Regions from separate parts of the Homo sapiens genome. Here all the other regions are linked to region 1. Evidence: fine-mapped expression QTL. A gene starts in region 1. Each other region holds a variant in brackets. All regions are shown on one strand. Distances are between the middles of the regions.

Evidence for each region. PIP is the estimated chance that this variant, and not a neighbour inherited with it, causes the effect.
Region 2: its variant is fine-mapped to the expression of IKZF1 in whole blood (TOPMed, PIP above 0.99).
Region 3: its variant is fine-mapped to the expression of IKZF1 in B cells (Fairfax 2012, PIP 0.95).

The regions. Positions count from the first base shown.
Region 1 is chr7:50,300,816-50,308,999 of GRCh38, reverse strand. IKZF1 (IKAROS family zinc finger 1) reads right to left here and starts at 4,284. Exons shown (of 8, transcript NM_006060.6): 1 at 4,078-4,284. RefSeq lists a silencer at 4,172-4,971 and an enhancer at 5,826-6,327.
Region 2 is chr7:50,248,092-50,256,275 of GRCh38, reverse strand. No RefSeq gene overlaps it. Among named protein-coding and RNA genes, the nearest start is that of IKZF1, 53 kb to the left of the region's middle. The variant G/A (reference allele first, on the strand shown) is at 3,451.
Region 3 is chr7:50,400,690-50,408,873 of GRCh38, reverse strand. It overlaps IKZF1 (IKAROS family zinc finger 1), which reads right to left. Exons shown (of 8, transcript NM_006060.6): 8 at 3,773-8,184. Among named protein-coding and RNA genes, the nearest start is that of FIGNL1, 46 kb to the left of the region's middle. The variant A/G (reference allele first, on the strand shown) is at 3,282.

The DNA of each region.
Region 1 (8,184 bases):
CCACCCACTGTGGAAACACCAGCAGGGAAGACGGAAGAACACAATGGCTATTCCAATCCATGCAAGCACACAAAGAAACCGTGTGGCACTCACCAACCAACCGAGGCCTCGCCAAGGCCAAGTGAGAGCTGCCTTTTCCACACAAATCCAGACTTTGAGGACCTAGGGCTGCTCGGAGTTCCCCTCAGACCCAGCCACCTGGGAGGGATCTTGGTGCCTGGCTACAGGGCCTCTGTGTCCTCTTCCTCCTCCAAAAGGTTCCTCTGCTGCCTTCACACTCCACCAGGGTGCAGAGAAAGGTGGAACCACTTGCCAAATATGCAAAAAAGGAGGGAAGACCGTTTTCTCTTAGGAAAACACAGACAGGAAGGGAGCCTGTGCTTCCTGTCCTAACCAAAACGAGTTCAGAAATTATGTGGACGTCTGATTTGTCAGGCTTGTGGTGGAAAAGGGTGCTCTTTTAGTCAACAGGAATTGTGAGTTCCCCAAAGGCAGAAATGGCCATGGGAGAAAAGAATTAAGGCCAGGCCTGTTAACAGGCAAGACAAATGGCCCCCACACCTGTGACCTAGGGTTTGCACCATTTTTAACAGTTTATTACCAGGTGGTTGGCTGAAGGCTCCACTGGCAACTACCTATTTATTATAGTCAAACATGAGAGGGAAAAACGTCAACTGAAACAATTTGGCAGTTGCCTGTAGATTAGGCCTCAGTTGCTCTTCCTCCAGGCCCTTCTCAGGAGTAACCACCAAGGAGACACCAAAATGGGCAGGCCCGCACTTCGCCACTTAAAAACCTTCTGCAAACCTTCTTTTGCTTGCTGTTTTATCTCACTTGTAATATATGGCACTTCATAAGGTTTCATAATGTCTTAAAAAATATTTGTTGGAATATTACCAAACATTTAAAAACTCAAACTAAAGCTACTAAAGTGACGACACTGAAACTTTAAGGACATAAACATATATTCCAGGAGATGTGGAAAGGTAACCTGAGATATGAAGTCATTTATTAAACTGCAAAGAAATACAAGAAAGCCATGGTCCACATGAAGACACCAGCATGAGTGTTCAGTCAGCACTACAGTAAAAACAGCTTTGTTACTGTCGATATCCTTTGGTTTTAGGTGCTCTGCGTCCCTAACAAAACCTCATTCCTATCTTGTTCCTCATCTGAATTTTAAGTGTGTGTGTGTGTGACAGTGTGTATAATGCTGATCCTCTGAAACTCTACGTTTCTAAGACCTAGATCAAAAATGTACATGTGCCCTTTTTGAGCAAAATAAAACTGATCTGTTTTCAAGACGTGAAATAGATTAATGTTTCTCTTCTTGTAAGCTTCAAAGGATGGGTCACTTGTTGCTTTTACATCTTGTGTTTTCTCCCATAAAATGGAATGATTATTCAGCACAAATATGAAATGGAATAGAGCTGAAGTCTCTGTAGTTATGAACATAGAGACACCAGAGAGAGAACAATGTTCACAGCCAGGACAGGAGCTGCAGCAACTCTGCCGCTAGAAGCAGGCGTCACAGTGCCCCCAGAGTGCTTGTCAGTCTTAGAAACAGAGGCATCGGAAGACAAGCGTTTTCAGAGAACGCAAAAAGGTCGTGGTTTACCTTCTGTAAGCTGGAGTGGAGCCACTTACATCAATCTCCCTTAGAATATGACAAGAACCAACATTTATTTCATAGTGAAATTATTTCACAAGTCCAAAGATTAGAGGAGGAAAAAAAAAATGCCACAAAACAGTGATATCCTTGATGAATTCTTCGTTAACCACAGTTACATTACATTAATACGTACAATTATGCAACACTCAAAAAACGTTATTTATGCCTAAAATTCACCATTATATAACATAGGGAAATCCATCTTGTTTTAGTAAAAGTTTAAAAATAAAGGGGGCCTTTAATACTCATTTCAGGTCTGTTTGATGTTAAAACTCTTCCACACTGCCCCATGCCTCTCACTCCACGCTGTGTGCATGCTGTGTGTGTGCACGCTCTGTGTGCATATGTGCATATGCACATGGAATTTATTTCATGTATCTGTTAATAAATGCATAATCTTGAAGTGTGTGTATAAGTACATTAATATATAGAGAGTTCTTTCCTATTTCAAAATTTTTGACATTTATATTGAAAATATGCTATATTAACCACGCATGAAACACACACATCCAAATCAAGAACAAAAAATGTATCCAAACCAAAGAACCACTGTTCTCAAACTCCAAGTCTCTAGTCAAACAAGGAAGACAGTGGCCTGCAGTACAACAGGGCTTTAGACCTCTTGGCTAATACATTCACTGCGATCTTAGTTTTTCGACAAAGGAAATGGCTACAAACGGCCACAGCTGATCTTCTCTTTAGGAGCCTGTGTAAAACTCTTCGAAAGGGTCAAACCTAACACATCCAGACTTTTATCTGCAGCCCTTGTGGTCTCCTGGAGACCCTGAGGGTGGGTGATTATTGCTATGATGTTTCTGCATTAGGGGGGTGTGTAGTTTTCCAAGAGGTACCACTCTAATTAGAACACTGATGAATTAAACAAGTACTGGAGAGTTTCTAAACTCCTTCCTTCAACTCTCACCGTGAAACAAAAGGGGAAGAAAACATGACCATTTAGTTCAATAAAATGTTCTGGTCACCAGCTCTGATTGACTGTGAGACTTAAGAGTCACGTTTTTTTTCATGTAAAAAATGTATGAAATATGTTCATGGTGAAATTGGAAATCAGATACATTCCATCAAGCAAGAATAGTGTAGTATTTTTAATGTGACATCATTATTTGTATGTGTACACATTATTTCTTTAACTTGTTCTGCATTTTACAAGATGCCAGCGTAAGAAGGTGAATCTTCTTGTCATGAATATTTGCCTCGTGTACATTTTAAGCCATAGCCCAAATGATCTGATTTGTCACGGAAATAATTCTGACACATTCTAATATAAATAATACTGAAATTGTTACTTTTTAAAATTCCATATAAAAGATGAGTACAATAAAACTCATTGAACAAACATCTTCAAACAAAGAAATAAACTCAAGAGGACCCAGGACATTTCTATGTGGGTCCCCCCCACCCCTCGACTCATAACCAAATTGAACCTGGCCTTAAAAGCATTTGAATGTCTATGAAAGTTTAAATATCATACGCAGTATTTTCAAATTCCATAAATTTTCCTCTTTTAACAGAAGTTGATGGGACTAGTAAGGAGACATTTCCTCAACACCATTTTGTCTGGAATTTTAAAACAAGGTATCTCAAAGCTGAAATATACTGCCTGCGGCGCAGTGGGAAATTGTGAGTGGGTAACCTAAGCAAAGCGCACCGCATTGAAATTCAGTCTGGGTGGGCTGCAGTCCCTAGAGAGAGGGAAGCTGCATTTGAAAGCTGTGCCTGGTCAGACCCTATGGAATCGCTACGGTTTTCGGTCATTAGATGCCTCCAAATTAGAAGGAAAAACAAGCCCTCACGAGGTTCCTTAGGCATCAGCAGCGATGCTTGACAAATATTTAAAATACATTTCAAATATAACCGCAAGTAACCTGATGCCTTAATATTACTAAGGGTTTTCCTGAGAAGGTTTGGTGACTTGAGCGTCAAACCTGCGGTCAGCAAAAGGACTAACTTTTCAAAGCCGGGATAATTCCTCTCTTGCAGAAATTAAGTTCAGACTCGATCTCATCATATTTATAGTATAAAAAGAAAGCTCCCGGCTCAAATATAAGGAAAACTCTTTACACACGACTTTATAAAGGCTGACTTCCGTGGGTATATGTAGGTCTACATAAATTTAAATATGGTTGGGAGCTAGAACTCCTCTCCTGGTGACAGCGGGGCTGCTCAGAAGTGTCCCATGTCGGCCTGGTCCTGCACCTGCTGGCACAGTGCAGAGCAACAGACGCTTGACAGAAGTGAACTCTCTCACTGTCCTCAGAAAAGAGAGGCGGACCTGAGCGACACCAGGGTCTACCAACCTTACCGCTTTTCTTTACTGTGTTTTTTTTTTTTTAAATTCACCAGTTACCCCAAGTTTTCCTATTGAAATTCAATTTGAAAACACTCACGTGGATTTGTGCGTCGCGCTTTGGGGCCAAGACTGATCCTCGGGTGCGAAGAGCAACCTCGGAGCCGGGGCTCCCTCTGCCCTGCCAGGCTTGCCCGCCTCGCCGCGGCCGAGCGTCCCGCCCAGGCTGGGATGCGCCGCGCGGGGACCCAGGGGGCTTGCCGCAGTCACCGCCCCGGGCGCGGGCCGCGCAGTCACTTGTTAGAGTGTCCTGCTAACTTGGCCGCGGAGCTCTTCCCAGCTTTCTTTCACAATGACTTCCTGAAGTTGCTCACTCGCATTGTTCCCCATTTCTCCGCCACACTCCCCGCCCCCAGCCGGCTCAGACCAGGCTTTCGCGCTCCCGGCCGACCGGCTGCCCCGCGCGCACAGCGCCGCCCGCGGGCCCCGTACCTGGCCCCCTCCGCGCCGGCCGCCCCCGCCGCGCCCTTGCGTTGCCACCAGCTGCCGCCCAGAGCGGCGGGTGGCCAGAGCGCGCGCCCTGCCACCCCGCAAACTTTGGGGTGACGCACGCTGGCGGTCCCTGCTCGACCTGCCCCGCAGCCGGCTCGGCCCCGCGCGCACCTCTCGGCCGCCTCCCGGATCGCTGCTCCGGTACAGGGAGCGGGGCGCGCAGAAGGGCGCAGAGCGGGACACGGAGAGGGTGCGTCGTCCCGTCCCCGCCCCGTCGCCGAGTCCCCCGGCTCGCGCGGCGCGCGTCTCAGCCGCAACTCCGGGCCAGAGGGGCCGCGCACGAAAACTTTGCAATCGCGCCGGGCTCCGGCTCAGCCCCCAAAGGCCGCCGGGGCGGCGGCGGGTGCGGGCCGTACCTGCTGGCGCCGCCGCCGGCTGCAGCCCGCTCGCCCGCGCCGGGCCCGCTCGGCGCGCCGCCGCCACCCCCGCGCGCACCGCGCCCGGGCCCTCCCCTCGCCGCCGCGCTTCCTCATTCCAGCGCAGCATCGCGCCGCGGCCCCGCACGGGATGCGGCGGCCGGCGCTGTGTCCGCGGGCCGGGCAGCCCGGCTCGGCCGCGGCGCTGCGGGACCCGCGCGTAACCCGTGGGGGCGCGGCGCGGGCGACACGTGCGGGCCGCCAGGAGGGGGAGGGGGACGCGCGCCGCCGGGCCCGCCACCCTGCACCCGGGGCCGCTGGTCGGTCGGGGCACCCTCACGCTCGCCCCGCTGGCGAGACTGGAGGGACTCGGGACATCGTAAAGCACTTTCCCCAGTGTCTGGGAGCGCCCGCTGTACGCTCAGCTTCACGTCCCTGGAACTGGGGCCCCTTGGCTCCCGGGTTCAGGCTCCGGCCCCAGGATGCGAGTGCCCACCCGAGGGGGTGGGAAAAGTTGATCCTCCGCAAGGGAGGGGAAGGTGCAATTCATTTTCCCAGACAACCAATGGAATACCTCTCGTCTCTCTTCCCTCCCACCTGCTCACGGCAGAAGTTAGGATGGCGCCTTCCATGTTGGCCTGGGTGCACACACAAGTGCGTGCGGAAGGGTGGCTGCAGGCGGAGGTGACAGCGAAGCAATCCCGCAGCCCGCTCGACGGCTCTTTGCGTCTCAGACCTCTCCCTGGCGTGTAAGACACCGTGTGTCTCCGTAAAACGGGAATGCCACATCTGACAGCGCACCCCTTCGCCCTACGGGGAGCCCCTCACTCTAATTAGCCGGGCTCCACCCGAGCAGGAGCCAGCAATGTGTTCAGCTTGAGCAGGAGAGAAAAAGTCATGAATTCCACAAATGCAGCCTGGGCTCCCGCCAGGCGCTAGGGGAGGGGACCCAGAGGAGTGAGATGCGCCTCCTGCCCTTCCAGACTTGTAGGAGCCACCAGGAAGGCACAGAATAAAAATCCCGGGCACCCCTGTGAGGAGGAGCGCCCTGTGAAGAGGGCCGAGAACGTGCTCCTGCTTGGGCGCGGTGGTTCGGGAAGGCGTGAAGACCCATAGGGAGAGCGATGAAAGACCAAGGGAGCCTCCTCAGGGTAGGACATGCAGGCGAAGAAGGCACAGGCCTTCCGGGTGGAGGACACAGCCGGGCAAGGGAATAAGCAGGAAATGTCCCTTCAGGGCAGTTGAGTGTGGCTGGAGACCATCGCTGCCGGGGAAGGTCTTGGCCTGGCCCAGGAGGCCTCCAAGTCGGGGGCCAGGGCACACCAGAGACAGGATCTGCCTCTGCTGCCTCTGGGAGAAGGCCCTTTACCCGTGAATCACAAACAGCGTCTATCCACATTCTCCCTGAGCGCATATGCAGCTCTTACTACAGTACTCAGTGTGTCCTGAAGGGCATTCCGCTGGGCAAGTCTGAGCCAGTTAACTCACTGCTACAGCCCAGAGAAGGGGAAGGTAGTGAAAGGTCCATTGATTTACCTTCTAGTCCTCTCCTCCACTGCGTGACCTTGGGCAGGTTATCCAAACTCCTGAGCATCATCTTCCTTGTCTATAAAAAGAATACATGCCACCAATCCTAAAGACTCCTTACCTGGATTAAATGAGGCAATAAACATAAGGTACAAGGCCCAGAGGGAGGCCAACAATGTTGTAAAGGGGACACGGGACACCTCTAGTTCTTGGATGCAGAAGTACCTTTAGCCGCTGGTACGTCTCTCTAAACCTGTGCCTTGGTCTTCAGGAGTGGACCAGTGGACCGAAACATAGGCATCTCACCAAGGTGTAGCCCACTGAGGCAGGAGCATGTGGGGCTAAGAGCCCAGATAGTTTGGGCTTATGAATCTGACTGAGGTCCTTAATCTCTCAAAGCCTGAATTTCCCCATCTGTAAATTGGTGGTGATAATATAACCCTCCTGGTGGGGTTGTTTGTGGGTTAAGGAGATCACATATGGAAGACCTTGCCACATGCCTGACAGAGAGGAGTACTTTCCAAGTAAGAACAGTTATTCCCTGCTAGCCCAACCAATGTCCCAATGAGATGAGGAGTGCACTGTGAAGAGTCAGGCTCCTTGGCTGGGTGCAGTGACTCACACCTGAGTTTGGAGCCCAAGGTGGGAAGATCACTTCAAGCCAAGAGTTCCAGACCAGCCTGGGCAACAAAGCAAGACCCTGTTTGTACAAAAAAATTTTAAACTTTAAAAATCAAACCCCATTTGTATTAAAAATTTAAAAATTAGGTGTTATGGTATGCACCTGCAGTCCCAACAACCTACTTAGGAGGCTGAGGCAGGAGGATCCCTTGAGCCCAGAAGTTTGAGGCTGCAGTGAGCCATGATTGACACCACTGCACTCCAGCTTGGGCGACACAGCAAGACCCTGTCACAAAACAAAACAAAACAGCAGTCAGGCTGCAGGTACCATGCCTTACCCTTGCCCCCAACCGGGTGGAGTTGAAGGAAGTCAAGCTTATATTATTATAACCTGGGGTCTGTGGATAGACTCAGAGGGACCAGAGAGGTGATATAAATCAAATGTTCAAACCCTTAGGGACAACAGTAAAATGCACAATGGATGGGAAAACATATAGGGAGAAATTGGAACATGTAAAACTGTTTTTTTTCATATTATGTCTAAAGTCATTTTATTTTATTTACATATTAATTCATATATTGCCCTCTTCATAATGTTAAAGTATTAAATAAAACACTTTAATTTATTCAGGCAATAATTGCTAAATCACCAATTTTTCTTCTTATGAGGCTGTATTATCGAAAGAATAGAGACCACCTATAGGATTAATCAAAGGCTACTTATTCAGAGCTCACTATGGAAAGAGAGGCAGCTAGGCACTTTTGTCCAGGTAGAGCCTGGATGGGATTTTCAAAAGAGAGTGAGTTTTTTACTTTCAAAGGAAAGTAAAAGGATGATTGAGGTGATACGATATGGTTAATAGTTTTGTTTCTTAGTAACTGTGTTTGGCAAGTTGTTTAAAGCCTGAGCTTCAGTTTCTCATCCGCAGAGCACATCTACTTCACAATGGTCTTGATAGAATTACGTGAAATTCAATGAAATAATCTATGGAAGTTATCATAATTGTATTTTTCTTCAATAAAAAAAGATCTGTTAACAGCAATGAAAAGTGCATGTCTCCTCTGATGGTTGGAAAACAGCAAGAATATTTTTAAATAACAGCAAAAGGTTTTTTTTGCTAAAAAATAAAATTTTATTTTATTTATATACC
Region 2 (8,184 bases), 53 kb after region 1:
GCCACCGCTAAGAAAACCATACCAATAAATATAAACACTATAAGTAAATCAGGATGACAAAATTTAGAAGTAGAGGCTAGATCTACGTTTCCAGGGGTTAGGAGTGGAATGGGGTGGGCAGAAGGACAAGGTGGAAGGTGCTATGAAAGCACAGCCTGAGGGATCCTCGTGGTGATGGAATGCCTCTTTACCTTGACTGCTATGGTGGATACATGGACCTACACATGGAATAAAATTGATACAACTAGATACACAAGCACACCCTCAAGTATGAGTGAAATGGAGGAAATCTGAATAAGATCAGTGGATTGTGTCAATGTCAATGTCAATGGTTGTGATATTGTTCTGTAGTTTTGCAAGATGTTAGCATAAGGAGACAGGGTCCATTATTTCTTGCAACTGCATGTGAATGTACAATTATCTCAAAAGTTTAAAAGTTTAACCATTAAGTAAATGGAGGGAAAAATGGAAGGAATTTTTTTAAAGTTTAATTAGGACAGAATAAAAAAAAAGGAAGGAAAAAATGAAGCTCAGAACAAGTGCAACAAATAGAAAATGAATTGCAAGATAGTAGATTTAAATCTAAATATAAAAGTAGTGATAATGAAAATTGATAATATTTCAAATAAAAGGACTATGATTGTCAGTCTGAATTTAAAGTTTAAAAAAATAAGATTTATACCTTAGGTATAAGGACACAGAGAGCTTGGAAGTTATTTCTTTGAAAAAGCCAATCAGATTGGTAAATCTCTGGCCAGACAGATAAAAGAATAATGAGAAACACATACATTATCAACATTAGGGATAAAAAGGGGACATTTATAAAGAAGCTATGGACATTAAAAAGCTAATATTAGGATATTATTAAAAGCTTTATGTCAATAAATTTGACAATTCAGATAAAATGTCAAAATCCCTGGAAAATACAACTTTCTAAAATTGACACAATAAGAAATTGAATATTTGAATAATCCTCTATCTAATGAAGATATTGAATCTGTCATGAAATTCTTCCGCTAAAGAGAACTCCTTTCTAATTGGCCTTATTGGTGACTTTTTCCAAACACTTCCAAACAATAGAAAAATAAGAACCTTTCAATTTATTTTTATAATGCTAGCATACCCTGGATATAAAACCTTCAAAGAACATCACAATAAAGGAAAATTAGAAGCCAAATTATTTTCATGAACACAGATACAAAACCCCTAATCAAAATATTAACAAAATCCAGTAATATAATAAACAGCAATACAGACAACTAAAATGGGATTACTCCAAAAAGTCAAATTTTGCTTAATATTGGAACATTAACCAATGTAATTTTCCACATTTACAGATTAAGGAGAAACATCTTATGATTATCTCCATAAATGAAGAAAAAGCATGAGATACAATTGAATACCGATTCATGATAAAAATTCTTAGGAAACTAGGAATCTTTTTTTTTTTTTTTTTTTGAGATGGAGTCTCGCTCTCGCCCAGGCCGGAGTGCAGTGGCACTATCTCGGCTCACTGCAAGCTCCGCCTCCCAGGTTCAGGCCATTCTCTTGCCTCAGCCTCCCTAGTAGATGGGACTACAGGTGCCCGCCACCACGCCTGGCTAATTTTTTGTATTTTTAGTAGAGATGGGGTTTCACCGTGTTAGCCAGGATGGTCTCGATCTCCTGACCTCGTGATCTGCCCGTCTTGGCCTCCGAAAGTGCTGGGATTACAGGCGTGAGCCACCGCGCCCGGCCAGGAATCCTTTCTTGATCTTATAAAGAAAATTCACAAATACAAAACAGAAGGAAAAGAAAATAAACAAAATCCTATGGCAGCTTCCGCTATGGCTGTGTTAGCTCCTGCTGGACCAAACCTCCCAGAGACCAGCTAAAAACCCTGGACAAAACACAAAAATATAACCTGAAGGCACCGGGGTGAATGAACATAGGCAGATGCCACAGTGGAGTTGATACTCGGAAGAAGACACAATATAGGGTAAGTGTTGTCCTTTTTCTTGGTAGGCTTTTAGCTTGCAACAAGACCTGGATGTGTGCCATGCAGCCTGATGTGAGGTGTCTGGGCCAACTGGGATTAAAGAGGCATCAGTGCAGGAGAGGGAGATTGGTTATGGCCAAGGAGATTAATCAAATAAATATTAAGAATAATGAGAGCTAGTTTCTTATTGTTGGAGAAGGATGTTAGAAATATAAAGGAACCAAACTAAAACTATGGTTCTGAATTGAAATCGAAGCTATCTGTAGATTTGTCCATATTATCACCTATGTGTAGGTATTTATACAATGATATGCCCTAGCTCTGTCTCCAAGAAATAGTAGAAACAGCAACATTCAATAGCAATGAGTACACCTAGATCCAGCTCTTGGTTTTGCAATACCATTTCCACCAAATGGGAACCATGGATCTTTGGAATAATGGTTGATTTCAAAGCTAGAACAGAGAAAATATGACATGAGCTTGGAATAGTTTGCTGTGATAAAGTAAGAAAGTTGTTAAGGTTTGAAAAGGAACACATTAAAAGGACACAGAAGAAAACTTGAAGAGGGTCCCACTGTTCAAATCTAGAAGAATTTAAACATTAAAATACATCAGTATAGTAATGGATTGTAATCCACTGAATTTAATAGGGAACCAATAGTTCATAGTGATATAGACAATAAATAAGTGAACAAATTATAACTTTAATGAGGCATGGGATATTTGCATAGTCTCTCAAAGCAGCTACCCATAAAACCCTCAATTAAAAAGGAAAAAAACAATTTTACAGTGAAGAAACATGACACTTACCACTTTAAGCAATCAAAGTCAACATCACTAGTAATGAAACAAATCGAAACTGTGTTTCACTTGATAGGACACAGCAAGACAAATCACAGCACAGCAAATCATGAGGAGACACCAGGCAAATCCAAATTGGGAGAAATTCCTAAAACACCTGGCCTGTATTCTTCAAACCTGTCAAGAACATGAAAGTCAAGGAGATACTGAGTAACTTTTTCAGGTTGAAGAAGACTAAAGAGAAATTATAACTAAAAGCAATGCATGTTTCTAAACTTGATCCCTTTGCTATAAAGGATATTTTGGACCAAATGACGATACTTGAATTGGGTTTGTGGATTGAATGGCAGTCATATAACAATTTTAGTTTTGTATTTTGATAGACTTATGGAATATGTTTTTGGGTAATTTATTTGTTTTTAGAAAATGTACTCTAGTTTGGGATAGATTGAGCATTATGTCCACAACCTGCCATCAATGATTTGAAGGTACAAACTTTTTAGTAGTGTTCTTGAAACTTATCTCTAAATTTGAGATTGTTTCCAGAAAACATTACTGTAAAAAGAAAGAATATGATCAATTTGGAAAAGTGCACATGGGTCTATATGTTTGTAATGTAAGATACATGAAGAAATAAATATAAGGTACATATTAGGTTTTGAAAAAATAGT[G/A]GGAGGTAAAGCTAGAGCTGTATTACAAAGAACCAAATGATTCTTATGTTTGACATTTTAGGATTTTATGGAAAGGAATGTCATGATCTTTCCATAAAGGATGGCATTTTAGAAAACAGCATTCCTGTAGCTTAACAGAAGATAGAAGGAAGAGGGTGGAGACACTTTAAACAGACAGAGTGACTATTTACAAAGCAAGTTAGAGGCAGACCGGGACTCAGGAAGAGATGCTTCAGATTTTGTGTCCATTGCATACATATTACAATTACAAGCCAGCAAGAACGGTTGGAGGGAATGGGTTAATTCTAAACCAAATTGTAATGGGACAAGGAACAACTGGGAGATAAAGAGTGGCAGATTTGGCAATCATGTATCATAATAGACACCTTGGATTTTTAGTTTTTTAATATACCCAGATCATTCCTAAATCATTCAGAGAAGCACAGCTCTATTGCCAAACATGCAAGGCTGTCCTACTGCCTCAGGCCGGCATGTCACCAGGCAGGCAGAACTGAAGCTGAGAGCCTATGGTTGGGACATTCTGACAAGAGTTGGGGAAAGAATGTTTCAGGTATCTGGTGGTACTTGTGACATTTGTGGGAGGTCTTGGGACCATACCAGCGAGGGCTCAGGATGGCAGATGTTTAATGCCACTCCATAGAGGCAGGTTCTGGAGAGGAGAGATGTGCATCGGAGTCTAGGGAACAGAGCTGAGGTTGGATGTCAACAGCAAACCATTGGGAGGGTCTTAGCAGACAAAGAAGGGAGAGCACATGAGGGCCAGTGACAGTGCAGTCAGAGGTGAGATGATATGCAAGCTGGTCCAATGGACACACCCCCCAACCTGTTATGTGGCTGCCCCTCCTGCTCTCTGTGGCGTCCTGAGCTAATCAGGCAGGAATGGAGACAGGCTGAGCAGAAACAGAGCTTCTCTGTTCCAAGAATGTCCTGGGCCTTTCAGAGGCATTATTGTGCTTAATACTTGCACTAGCCCACCAGGTGGTTATTTAGACTTCATTTATACATAGTAAACCTGAGGCTAGGCGCAGAAGCACAGTACTTAATTCAGTGGGAATCCAATGCTGTCTGACTCCAAAGCCCTAGAACTTGCTTCTGCAGCCCTGGCACTTGGCTCAGATCTACTTACAAGCAAGAAAGCTTGTAGAGTGATGCCCAGGACAATGGCAGAATATGTTCCTTCCATAAAGCTGTCAGAATTATAAAATTCAAGATGATGGAGAATCTTCGTATTTTTACCAGTAATCAATGGTGTATCCTAGAATTTTAGAATTCCAGGACTGGCTGAACTTAGTTGCCAATTTATCATTTTTATTTTTAACTGGTTTGCAAATTGTAGCACACGTAATTGAGGCAACTTCACAATGAGGACATTGGATATTAAAGCTCATGGAGGATCTATTAACTTTTTTTTATTATACTTTAAGTTTTAGGGTACATGTGCACAAGCTGAATGAAATGAAGTTTTAGTTACTTCCTATCAATGCTGTTCTCTCTCCTTCATGAATCTATTGCTTCACAGAAAATGTCTTAAAAGACAGAAAACAAAACAACAATAACGAAAAAACACAACCCCTGTCATCTGTTTTAAAACAGTTCTTATAATAATGATAGTTTACAAACTTGTGTGACTTTCAGATCATAATAAAGCATAATAAGTACTGACTATGCTTGTAATAGTTTAACAATTTAAAAATCATTTTAGTGACTATTTTATCATCATCTAAAATATAATCTCTCACTATGGCTACAAAAATAGATGGCAGCTGGTTTGCACATTACTATGATTTTGTGATATTGTTATTTGAATTAATTTGATCATCAGAGTTTTGGACACTGAATGGATTTTAGGTGCACTAAATGAATACATTGAAAATATAGTCAGTGTGACTGGTTTTGCTTTAACTTGAGGGACTTTGATTTGCACTTAAAACCACTTGGCTTCTTCACTCTTTTGTTGGACTTGCTTTTCATGGTCAAGGAACACCCTTTGTAACACTGGTTACACAACCGCCCTCCTGTGTGTTAGGCACAGAAAGTACTCACTACTCCTCTGTCCCACAATGTCCTAGGCACTTGATATTGTCAATCTTTAAGCTTCTTGCCACTGTAATATAATTGTGGCTTTGATTGGAATTCCCCTGCTTACTAATGAGATTGAGCATCTTTTTCATATTTTATTTTTCTCTTGCATGAAGTACCCATTGAAGTAATTTGTTCACTTCTCCATCGAATTGTCTTTTTTGTATCTATATATTGGGACTCTTTTATATGTTTTAAAAAATACTTGCTCAGTGATCTGTGTTGTAAATATTTTATTCCGATGTGTATCATCTTTTCACGTCTTCATTGTACCTCAATTTTCAGACCAATTGGTTAATCATTTCTGCGAATGTGTTTTTCGACTCTTTAAGAAAGTTTTCCCTATACATGGTAATAGTCTACTACATTGCCTTTCAAAACTTTTATAGTTTTGCTTTTAACATTTATGTCATAAATTTACCTTGAAACGATTTTAGTGTATTATGTGAGATAGGAATCCTAGTTCATTTTCTTCCCTATGTAAAAGTAATTGTTGCTGTCCATTTTCCCATGTTCTTCAATGCTAGCTGTCATAACTGGGTTTCTATTTTTTTGTTAAGTCTGTTTCTGGGTACTCTATTCTGTAAGTATATTTGTTTATCTCTATACAAATAAAACATATCTCAATGATCATATTTTTATAGTATGTCTTGATATGTGATAATGTCCATCCTTCCAATGTATTCTTCCCTTCAGCAATGCTCATTTTTGACTGTTGGCTCTTACATATAAATTTTAGAGCTAGCTTGATGTAACCAATTACCTGCTGGAAATTTGGATTTTTCTTGAATAGAAGGATGAATTTGAAGATAATTAACATCTTAATATATTAAGTCTTCCTATACAGATATCTAATTTTTTTGTTTAGGTCTTCTAAATTTGTACATCTATTAATATTATGTTTATTCCTAGGTAATTACAATTTTGGTTTCTATTGTAAATTTCATATTACTTAATATTAAATTTCCACACTGTAAATACTTTTGGCTGAGGTATACAAATGCAATTAACTTTTCTCTATTTATTTTGTATCACACATTCTTTTAAAATTCCATTATTTAATTCTAATAATTCATCAGCAGATTCATTTGGATTTTCTACAGAACATCATATTATCTGCAAATAATTATGGCTTTGTTCTATTCATTTAAGATGTCATTCTCTTATTTTGACATCTTACATGTCATTTAGATGTTCTAGTCATTTACGAGCCATTCTCTTATTTTGTATCCTCTTCTTGTATTTGATTACTGGCTACAGTCTCAGATATAATGTTGAAGGAAAGTGTGATATTAGGAATCGTCATCATGCAACTCATTTTAAACGGGAGGCTTTTAACAGCCCACCATTAAATACGATGTTTTTCCTAGGATTTTATACGATGTTTTTCCTAGGATTTTAGTAGCCTCCTTCTATCAGTTTAAGTAAGTTTTCTTAATTTCCTACTATTCTGAGCAATACTTTCATGAATAATGAATGCTATTAAGTCGCTTTTTCTCATTTTCCCCATTTATGTATAAATATTTTTATCTATCAATGAGTTTTCTGATGCTAAACCATGTAGTTATAAGATGAAACCCTACATAGCCATAACATTCTATACATGTTAGATTTCATGCTGATGTTCTTTCTCTTGTTCTTTGCAGATGAATGAGATTGGCCTATGCTTTTTTTTTTTTCACCTGTTTATTCTTATCTGGTTTTAGTATTTGGAGCAAATTAACTTCATAAACTCAACTAAATAGTATTCTTTTCCTCTGTACTCTAAAAAAGTTTGTATAAGGTTAGAATTTTTTGAATAAATTGTGCAGGAATTTACTTGTACAATTATCAGGCATGATATTTTCTTTTCTCAAAAGATTTTATGCTACTGATTCAACAGATTTAAGGGATGTTGGACTGTTTGATTTTTTTTTAACTCTCCTTGAGTTATTCGTTAAGTTATTTTTTTTCTAGAAATTTGTTAATTCTAGTTTGGTTTACATATTAAATTGCCATCAGGTTGTACTCAGTATACTCATCTTTTTATTTCTTGAAGCATCTATAGTTTGAATTTATTTTCCTTTTCAGAAGTTGCTTCTGTGCATTCTCTTCATAACGTGAAAATTTTCATTAGAGATTTCTTAATTTCATGAGATTTAAAATAAACCTGTTGTTTTGTTTTTCTAATCTGTCATATTTTAGTTCTGTATTTTATTAACTTCTGTTTTTATCTTTACCATTTTGCCCTGTGTACTGTCTTTGGGTTTATTCTCTGCAATTAAAATAGGGTGATTCCCTTTCTCTCTCCCTCTCTCTTTCTCTTTCTCGCTTTCTTTTTTTCTTTCCTTTCTTTCTTCTTTCTTTCTTTCTCTTTCTTTTTTTCTTTCTTTCTTTCCTTCTCCTTCCTCTTCCTCTTCTCCTTCCCTTCCCTTCTCTTCCCTTCCCTTGCCTTCCCTTGCCTTCCTTCCCTTCCCTTCCTGCCTCCCTCCCTCCTTTCTTTCTTCTTTTCTTTCCTTCCTCCCTTCCTTCCTTCTCTCTCTCTCTTTCTTTCTTTTTTTCTTTCTTTCTTTCTTTCTTTCTTTCTTTCTTTCTTTCTTTCTTTCTTTCTTTTTTCCTTCTTTCTTTCTCTCTCTCTCTTTCTTTCTTTCTTTC
Region 3 (8,184 bases), 100 kb before region 1:
TTGCTGTGGGTAAAGCCTCTCTTCTGCCTGGATGGCATGGCCCCCTTCACTGTCTCCAGAGTTCTCATTGCATCACCCCCTCCCCCTCACCTCCTAAGACTCCTGGATGCCTCCCTATCCACCTGTTCAAACTCCTCCTATCCTCAGTCTACATTTCTGAATTTATCTCCTATTTTTTTCCCCTTGAGTACTCTTTCCCAGACAAACAGGGCTATTGCTGTTGGACTTCTGGTTCTGACATACAACAGATTTCATTCACATTTGTTCTGTCTTGAATGCCCTTCTTACACCCCCAATCCTCTGCTTCCAACATCAAAATCCCAATCATTCCGAAAAGCTGGGATCAGACAAGATCTCTTCCAGGAAGCCTTCTGTAATCCTCAAGTGAGAAGTGATGTTTCCTTCCACTGGGCTTTTACAGCACTTTAGAGCGCTTTTCATTGCACCTTGTTTTGTAATCACCTTTGTGCTGGGTCATTTCTCCCTGTGCTTTCTAGAGTGCAGGCACAGGAGTCAGGTGCTCAGGGACAAGTGCTGGTCCTAGTATTTCCAGCTGTGTGACCCCAGGCAGGTTACTCAGCTTTTCCAAGCTTCGAAGTCCTCATCTGCAGAACTGGAGGTGACAATGGTACTTGTAGAGACAGACAGGGAGTACACATGGCACAAGCAGGTGGTTACAGCGCCCAACCCCTGTGATGCTGTGAGCCTTGATCCCAGCACATAGCCAGGCACTGAAGGCTGAGGAGCGATGTGATGTGAGTGGGTCAAGTCATTATGTGATGTCAGGAGTGTCTCTTTTATCAAGAAGATATTGATTTACTTTATTTCCAACTTCCCAGTCTCTGCTTTGCAGCTCAAGTTATTCAACAAACCAATGAAGGATCTTAAGATTAAGAAGAGCCAGAGACAAGATGCAGTGCAGAGAGAACAGAATGGAGTCAAAAGTCAAATGTGTCAATGTGTGTTGGGGGCAGGGACACAGAGGGGGCACTGTCTAATTGGGGGAAATGTCCCTGCTCTTGTCCTTGGTCTTGAGTTTATTGGTTGTAATTGTACTCATCTTTGACTAGATACCTCTAGGCTCCCTGATATTTTTCAGAGCTCTCCCAGTCCACTGATGCTTAGCTTAGCTTGTGTTTTCAGCTCTCTGAAACATCCTTTCATTGCTCAGACTCTGTTTGGCTCTCATTTCTTTTCCTGGTCCTTCTGCCCTTCTGTTTCTAGTTCAGATTCATGCATTCTCCTTTCAGAGACCAGCTCTCCAGCAGCATCAGCCACATTGCATGCTCTGTGGGGCTGGAGGGGACCAGAGCTGTCCAAAAACCCCCAACCCCACCTCCTCACTCTGTGCCTGCCCTGGCATATGCCCTCGAGATGCCTCTGAATTCTCTGAAGTGAAAGAGCCTGCTCCCCTAGGTGGAGGTTGGGAAACTTGACATGCAATTTGTGGGTGAGTTTGGTTGAGGAGGCAGCCAAGGGAAAACCCTCTGAAAGCAGGTTTTCACCCGCATCTTTCTCCTCCCCTCCCTGGAATTCAGAAGCTATGGGATTGCCAAACCCTGTCATTCCCACGTATCAAATCCCACATCCTCCCTGGAGGAAGCACTGCCGAGATGGAACAGGAGCCAAGAGAAGAATGGGCTTGAGGGGCCTGGGCCCATCCTGCCTCTGCAGCACTGGACTCTGGGTGCTCTGTGGAGCCCTGAGATGCAGTTCTTTCACTTTACGATGGGGCACATATCATCTTCCCCAGGCTCACCCAGAACATGCCCAGCATGGTGATGGCTGAGAAGGAGGTTTGCTGCTTCGCAGACACAATTGTTTGATCTCTAAGGGGGATGTGGATGGGTCCCTGTCTCACTTGGCTGTCATGCAGCTGGAATGAGATAAGGGGGCTAGAAGGAGCTATACAAACGCCAGGTGAGGCAGGAAAGGCTGAGCAGCCACTCCCACAGCACTGAGTCCAGTGGTCCACAGACACTGAGGATTTAATCCTTCCTGTAACCCTCCAGGCTTTCAGTGAGGAGAAAACTGGGGCTCAAAGAGGTTAGACCATGTGTCCCATGTCACACAGCGTTAATGTACAGAGCAGATATTCACACCCAGGCTTCGCAGCTCCAGAGTCCCATTCCTAATCACCATGCCTTATGCACATCTTAACATGCCCAGAGGGACACCTCTAAGGCAGGGCCACCTTGTGCTCCTGGCTGAGGAAATGGCACTTGGCTTTGGAGTAGCAGGAAACCAGGGGAGATCTGTGTGCAGGGCAGTGTCAGTGATTGATCAGGTTCCTGGTTTAACACAATCACTATTGAGAAGTCAAAAGTCTAGGTAGGATTAAGGAGACTTGGGAGGTAAGGAGGCCTTTAGGAGGCTCCCATTGAAGGAGGGCCAGGGAGAGAGACTGTGTGACACTGAGGGTCACTGTGGAGACCAGTGGCAGCTGGGGCATGGCCTTCCATCTTAGTGGACCATGGAGGGCCAGGTGAACAGGCTTGGCTTCTCCATTAAGGTAAACAGGCTGAGATCCAGGGGTGATGCAGGGATGGCTGTGGACTCTATTTTCTCACTCCTGTCTCCATGTGGATGGACTTTGGTAAAACCCCTTGCTGGACCCCAGGAGGAAAGGAGTGGCCTGGACTTGAGTCTGGACGTAGGAACCGAGTGCGCTTCCTATTGCTGCACGGGGGTCTGCTGCCTATAGGGTGTAGGTTCTGGTCCCCTCTCCCTGTCCTGCAGGGCAGGGGCTCAGCCTTTGCTGGGGCCTCCTAAGTTTAATTGCTACCTGTGGCCAGGTGGGCAAGTCTGTCTAATGCAGAACGAGTGTAATGCCCGCTGGGGTCACACCGTGAAGCTGTGTCCTCTCATCTCGGTTTTATGAGTAAGAAAGCTAGTTTTTTGGTTTCCCACTTGTTGATTCTTTTATCTATAATATCTGGGTTGTTTCAAACTCAGGGGGAAAAAAAAGAGACTATTATTGGTTCCTCCCCTCCCTTCCAAAAATGGGTTTGGGCCCAGGAAGAGAGGCAAGGCTGTAACTGTCTCTAGGAGGAATGGACTGGGAGTCTGCTTAGCACGACTTGGTGGCTGGTCCCACACCTCGAGGGTGGGCTGTGTCCAGACCTCCAGCTCCAGAATGTTCAGGAGGAGGCTTCTGAAAGCTGCATTTTTAACAGCCACTCAGATGATTACAAGCTGCATTTGGGAAACAAAGTCCTGGGAGATCATTGGAGGCACTGGAGCCGGGGCAAGGCTGGAGTCGGTGAGGGAGTCTCATGGCA[A/G]CTCAAAACTAGGGAATGGTTTTGCTCAGGCCTGTTTAATGGCAGGAGAAGCCAGTGGGAGCCTAGGATGCTGAGGGCAGGGTTGCTATTCTAAGAGCCACGGGGAATCCCTTTCTGCCTCCTTAGAGGAAGTTAGGGGCGGATGATTTGCAAAAAGGCAGAGAAGACAGATCTGTGCAGGCAACAGCAACATTTTGCCTTCAGCTCCGCACAGCAACACTGTGCCAGCCCGTTCTGGGTTCTGGTGCAGAGAAAAGGCCAGAAGTTTTCAGAAGGATTTCCTGGGCTTTGGAGGAACGTGGAGTTTCGGTCTTGGTTGTCAAACTTCCTCCAGGTCTTTTACCAATTGCTCAATCCCTTGAGTGTGTCTTTTGTGCCTAGCCCTGTGTTGGAGTTGTAAGGCCATAAAAGAAAAGACATGAGTTTTGGGAACAGCCAAAGGGATTTCGTTCCTTGAGAACCCATATGCTTCCAATGAGAATGTGAGAAGGTTTCACCAAGGAGTCATAACCTCCAAGACATTTTATTTTGACAGAAAAGGTGTGACACATCCATCAGAAATGGGATCAGAAATTTTTGGTCTCCCAGTCCCCAGTCCTGATTTTTAATTCCCAATTTCAAAATTCTATACTAACATCCAAACTATAACTTGACTTTTAAATTTACCCCACTCCTCGGGAAGAGAAGTGCAATGCAGGCAGGCAGCTGTTTCCAGGAGATCAGAAAAGGGTAAATGAATACTCAAGATTTACAGCGTCAAAAGGCTATGTTGAGGATAATTCTTATGACTATGTAAAAGACAAGGTAGTGAAATTGTGAGGGCCCTGGGCCCGGCCACTCACAGAATGACTGAAGCATGCTGCAGTGGAGAACTGGAAATGTATCTCTTGTTGCCCTCCATCTCCACCCACCCTCAAGACTGGGACTTAGAATTCCCACGTCCAGCACTGTTGTAGATGGGAGGTACGTTGTGCTGAACTGCTGCGCTGGCCACATCAAGACACCACATGTGTTCCCAAGTGGTATTGCAGCTGTCCTGAGGCCCATCTCTTCTCCCTCTCATATTGGGATCTCATTGGGAGAAAGTCTAGGCAGATTCCTGCTCTGCTGGGCCTTCTCTTACGCCAGTGTGGACTTCACGGGATAGGGCAGACAGAGTATTCGTTGCATTTATTTGTTCTATCACTACAGAAGAAGCATTTCAAAATGTGTACAAAAGGATACTCTATTCCTCCAGTGGTACATCCCTTGTTCACAGCTAAACAGCAATAATTTAACATCATCATAGAGGCAGACTGGAAATATGACTGCATTTCTCATTTACAATCCTGTGCATGTACTCGCCAGAAGGGCAGCTGAAGACCTAAAGCTGTACTGGATACAACAGATTCGACCTGAACAATCACCACACACAACATTATAAAAAACTGTATTAGAAAGTATTGGAAACAATATTGCATATTAATATGTGGTTACACATGTTCACAGTGAGTGCCATCGCACCAAAAGCATTATGTGCTTCTTTTTTCTGATGCCTGTACATCTTAAATAAGTCTAATAATTTTGGTTCATCTTAAAGTAAAAATACATTGAAATGAATGAGAGAGATCTAGATTTTAAAAAAGTTGACCATTCATTATTGCTGGAACTGAAGAAAGGAAGGATACACTGGCATCACGATTTGTCTACATAAGTCCAGTTCATCTCGCGTTTGTTTTGGCAAGAAGAGGACACTACAAAACTCACAGTGCAGTCAAAACAAAACAAAACAAGAAAAAAGCACAAAAATGGTCGGTGGGGAACCATATAACAAAACTACATCTCAGGCAGCTCTTTCTCAAGGAAGATTCTAAGATTTTATTATGTGGCTAATTCTAAATTGGAAATGGAACATGCTGGTATGTGAAGCAATTGGTGCTAGGACTTTACCCTTTGCTGATATGCAATGATAATGTGATGAGTTTTAGTGACTCTTGAATTAGGATAATCACACTCTTTAGGTACAAATTACAGAAGGGATATGGGGCAAGGAGCTGAGATCCAGGCTTTCCACATCCTGGGAAGCTGGGGTGTCAGGGAGGGGGCGGAACAAGACACAGCGATTACTAGCTGTAATCAACAGGCCAACCTGTTACCCTCCGGTCTCCAATATTTACTTCAAACACAACGAGAGTGCATGGAATCTAGGCACACAGTAGTACACAGCGGTACCCAAGACACACACTCACGCCATCATACAACAGAAGAAACTACGCAAAAAAAGTGTGAAGTCATGCAAACTCCTACTTTACCAGCTAGAAGAGAAACTTCAGCAACTTTTGGTACATGATATGGCCACCTTTTAAACATAAGTTAATTACTTGCTGACATAATATGAAACCTTACTTTAAATACAATAGTTTCAAAGAAAAATGGTGTTACAATATAAAACCACAACAAAAGGTGTGCAAAGAGACATTTATATTGGCTATAAAAGGCAGTGAGAGGAAAGGGCAAAGCAGTTTAGAAAAGAATTCCTGCAATCACTATTTACAGTTCTGGTTTGAGCTTTGTTTGAATTCCACTTGAAAAAATAACTCCCTTCAACCAACTGACTCAGGGGGATGGATGGAAAAGAACAGAGTAGGTGAAATTTGCAACAAACTGACTCTAAGAAGGCTCTCACCTTAGAGATATTAACTTGGATAAGGCGCATCTTTCTCTGTGATTGCATATTGAAGGAGTGCTGTCTAAAGCCCTTGATCCTCTGTCTCTCTTCCTTCACTCAGTGCATTGGTGCAGCAATTTTGTTTATTCCCGTTTCCAAATGCCACACCCTTCTGTGAGCAGAGAAATCCATGACTCAAGAATGGTATCTTTGTAAACTCCATCTTTTCAACAAAACTCAAATGTTTATGAGGAAATATATTTTTAAGACCGAAGGGGAATAATTGATTTATAGAATTTATAATGACTCCACATGAACACAAGTCAGCCTTGATACTGCTGACCGGGAATATTGGGAATATTCTTCAAGTGCTTTTCTATTTTTTTTCTTGGAGGGCTTCCCAGACATTTGATTGGTTTAGAATTCATTTGGGTCAGTGGTTCTCCCCCAGGAGTGATTTCTCCTCGCAGGGGACAGTTGGTGATGTCTGGAGAGTTTGGGTTGTCAATTCGGGGTGCTACTGGCGTCTATTGGGTAGCCACCAGGGATACTGCTAATTATCCTACAATGCACAGGAGAGCTCCCGCCTAACAAATAAGTAGTCAGCCCAAAATGTCATAGTGCTGAGACTAAGAACCCCTGTTTGGATTAAATGCTGAGGTACTTATGTACAATTTCCTCTCTGTTGCTTCATTTCACCTTGGGACAGTGTTGGTGAAGACAAGTACTGTAAATATTTGAAATGGTATATTCTTCATTGCCTAGGTGGTTGAGAGTAATGACCTTAATGATTGATAGCATTAATCTTGAAGGAGACCCTTGCTTGTTGGGATTAGAATCTCCACACACCTTCCTCGGGCTTCAGTGCCTCCATGTCATAGCACGGATGGGCGGGGTTCTCACCTGCAGTGCCATTTGCCTCCTCTTTCCTAGGGGATCTGGTGGCATTACTCTCCGAAGGTCTGGCTCAGTCCCTCAATTGCCCTGTGCATTCCAATATCCTACAGGTGCAGAGCCAGCCATCCTATGTATGTGTGGACACACATGCTGGCTTGCCTTTACAGTAAAGAGCTTCAACATGTTTGAAAGCTTGGTTTCAAACAGGTGAGCTCTGTGTGTTAGCAACAGAGATGCTGGGCTTCACATATTTCATTGAGTTGAAAATTAATGACTGTTCTAAATCACTCCTTTATGGGTTTTAAAACGAGAATAATATATAGTGAGGGTAGGTAAAGAAACTTACCAACACTGAGAAATTCAGGCTTGTGGCTACAAACAGATGTACATAATTAAAATGAGGGCTAGGATTGGATTTCTTCAGGAAAAGAGGCCTCTGGTACTAGATGGAACCAGCCAGGGAAGGAAGAGATTTGAAATAAAGCTTTGGTTTCTGAGGAATGTTGCCGTTTGAGAGATTCAAAAAGAAAGAAGATCCAAATTTCGGGACTGGTGTTTAAATTGTAGTGACAGATTTTGGGGGCCATTAAAGGTATGGGAGTGAAAAAGCGGGGAACAGGGCTCCCCAGATATGCCCACGGGAAGACAGTCTCCTCCTACGGGGCAGCAAGCCTCGGGAGGCTCAGGCCATCTGAGCAGCCTCCGCAAAGCCAGTGAATCCAGGACGATCCCAAAGGCTCTAGCCCGGCGTCTCCCTCCACCCAGGGCAGTCTGACAGACACGACTTTCCCCAACCAATTCATTTTCCTACGCAGAATATGACTTGAAATAGTATTTTCTCTCACAAGTGCAGCCTCTCCGCCCTAGATGCATGTAGCTCGAAGCTGGCCTGGGCACAGGTTGTTGGCCCTGCTGTGTCTTGGCACTTGGGTGGCGGCACACCTGTCCTGTCTGCTCACCTGCAGACCCACACAGCAGGGGCTGTGCTCTCTGCTTCTGGGGACTGGAAAAAGACACCTGGTGCGCGAACCCCGTGCTTAGCACAGGGTAGAGCACGCTCCTTCCCAGGCTGTGGCGTGTTTTATCTATTTCTCTCTGAAAATTTAGACTAATCGTTTGGAGAAGGGGATTCTAGGAAGCGACAGGTGAGGGAATCTCAGCCAGCGGTCTGGGGAAACATCTAGGAAGGTAGCAGTTCTGGATGCTCCCAATGCAGCCCTGCCTCTAAAAATAAAAATCTTTTCAAAAGCAAATCAAACCCCAATCAACCAACTCAAACAAAAAACAAAAAACAGTTACAAATCCAAACACAACATTGTCTGGTCCAGTCCAGTCTATGCTGCTGGCGGGAGCGAGAAG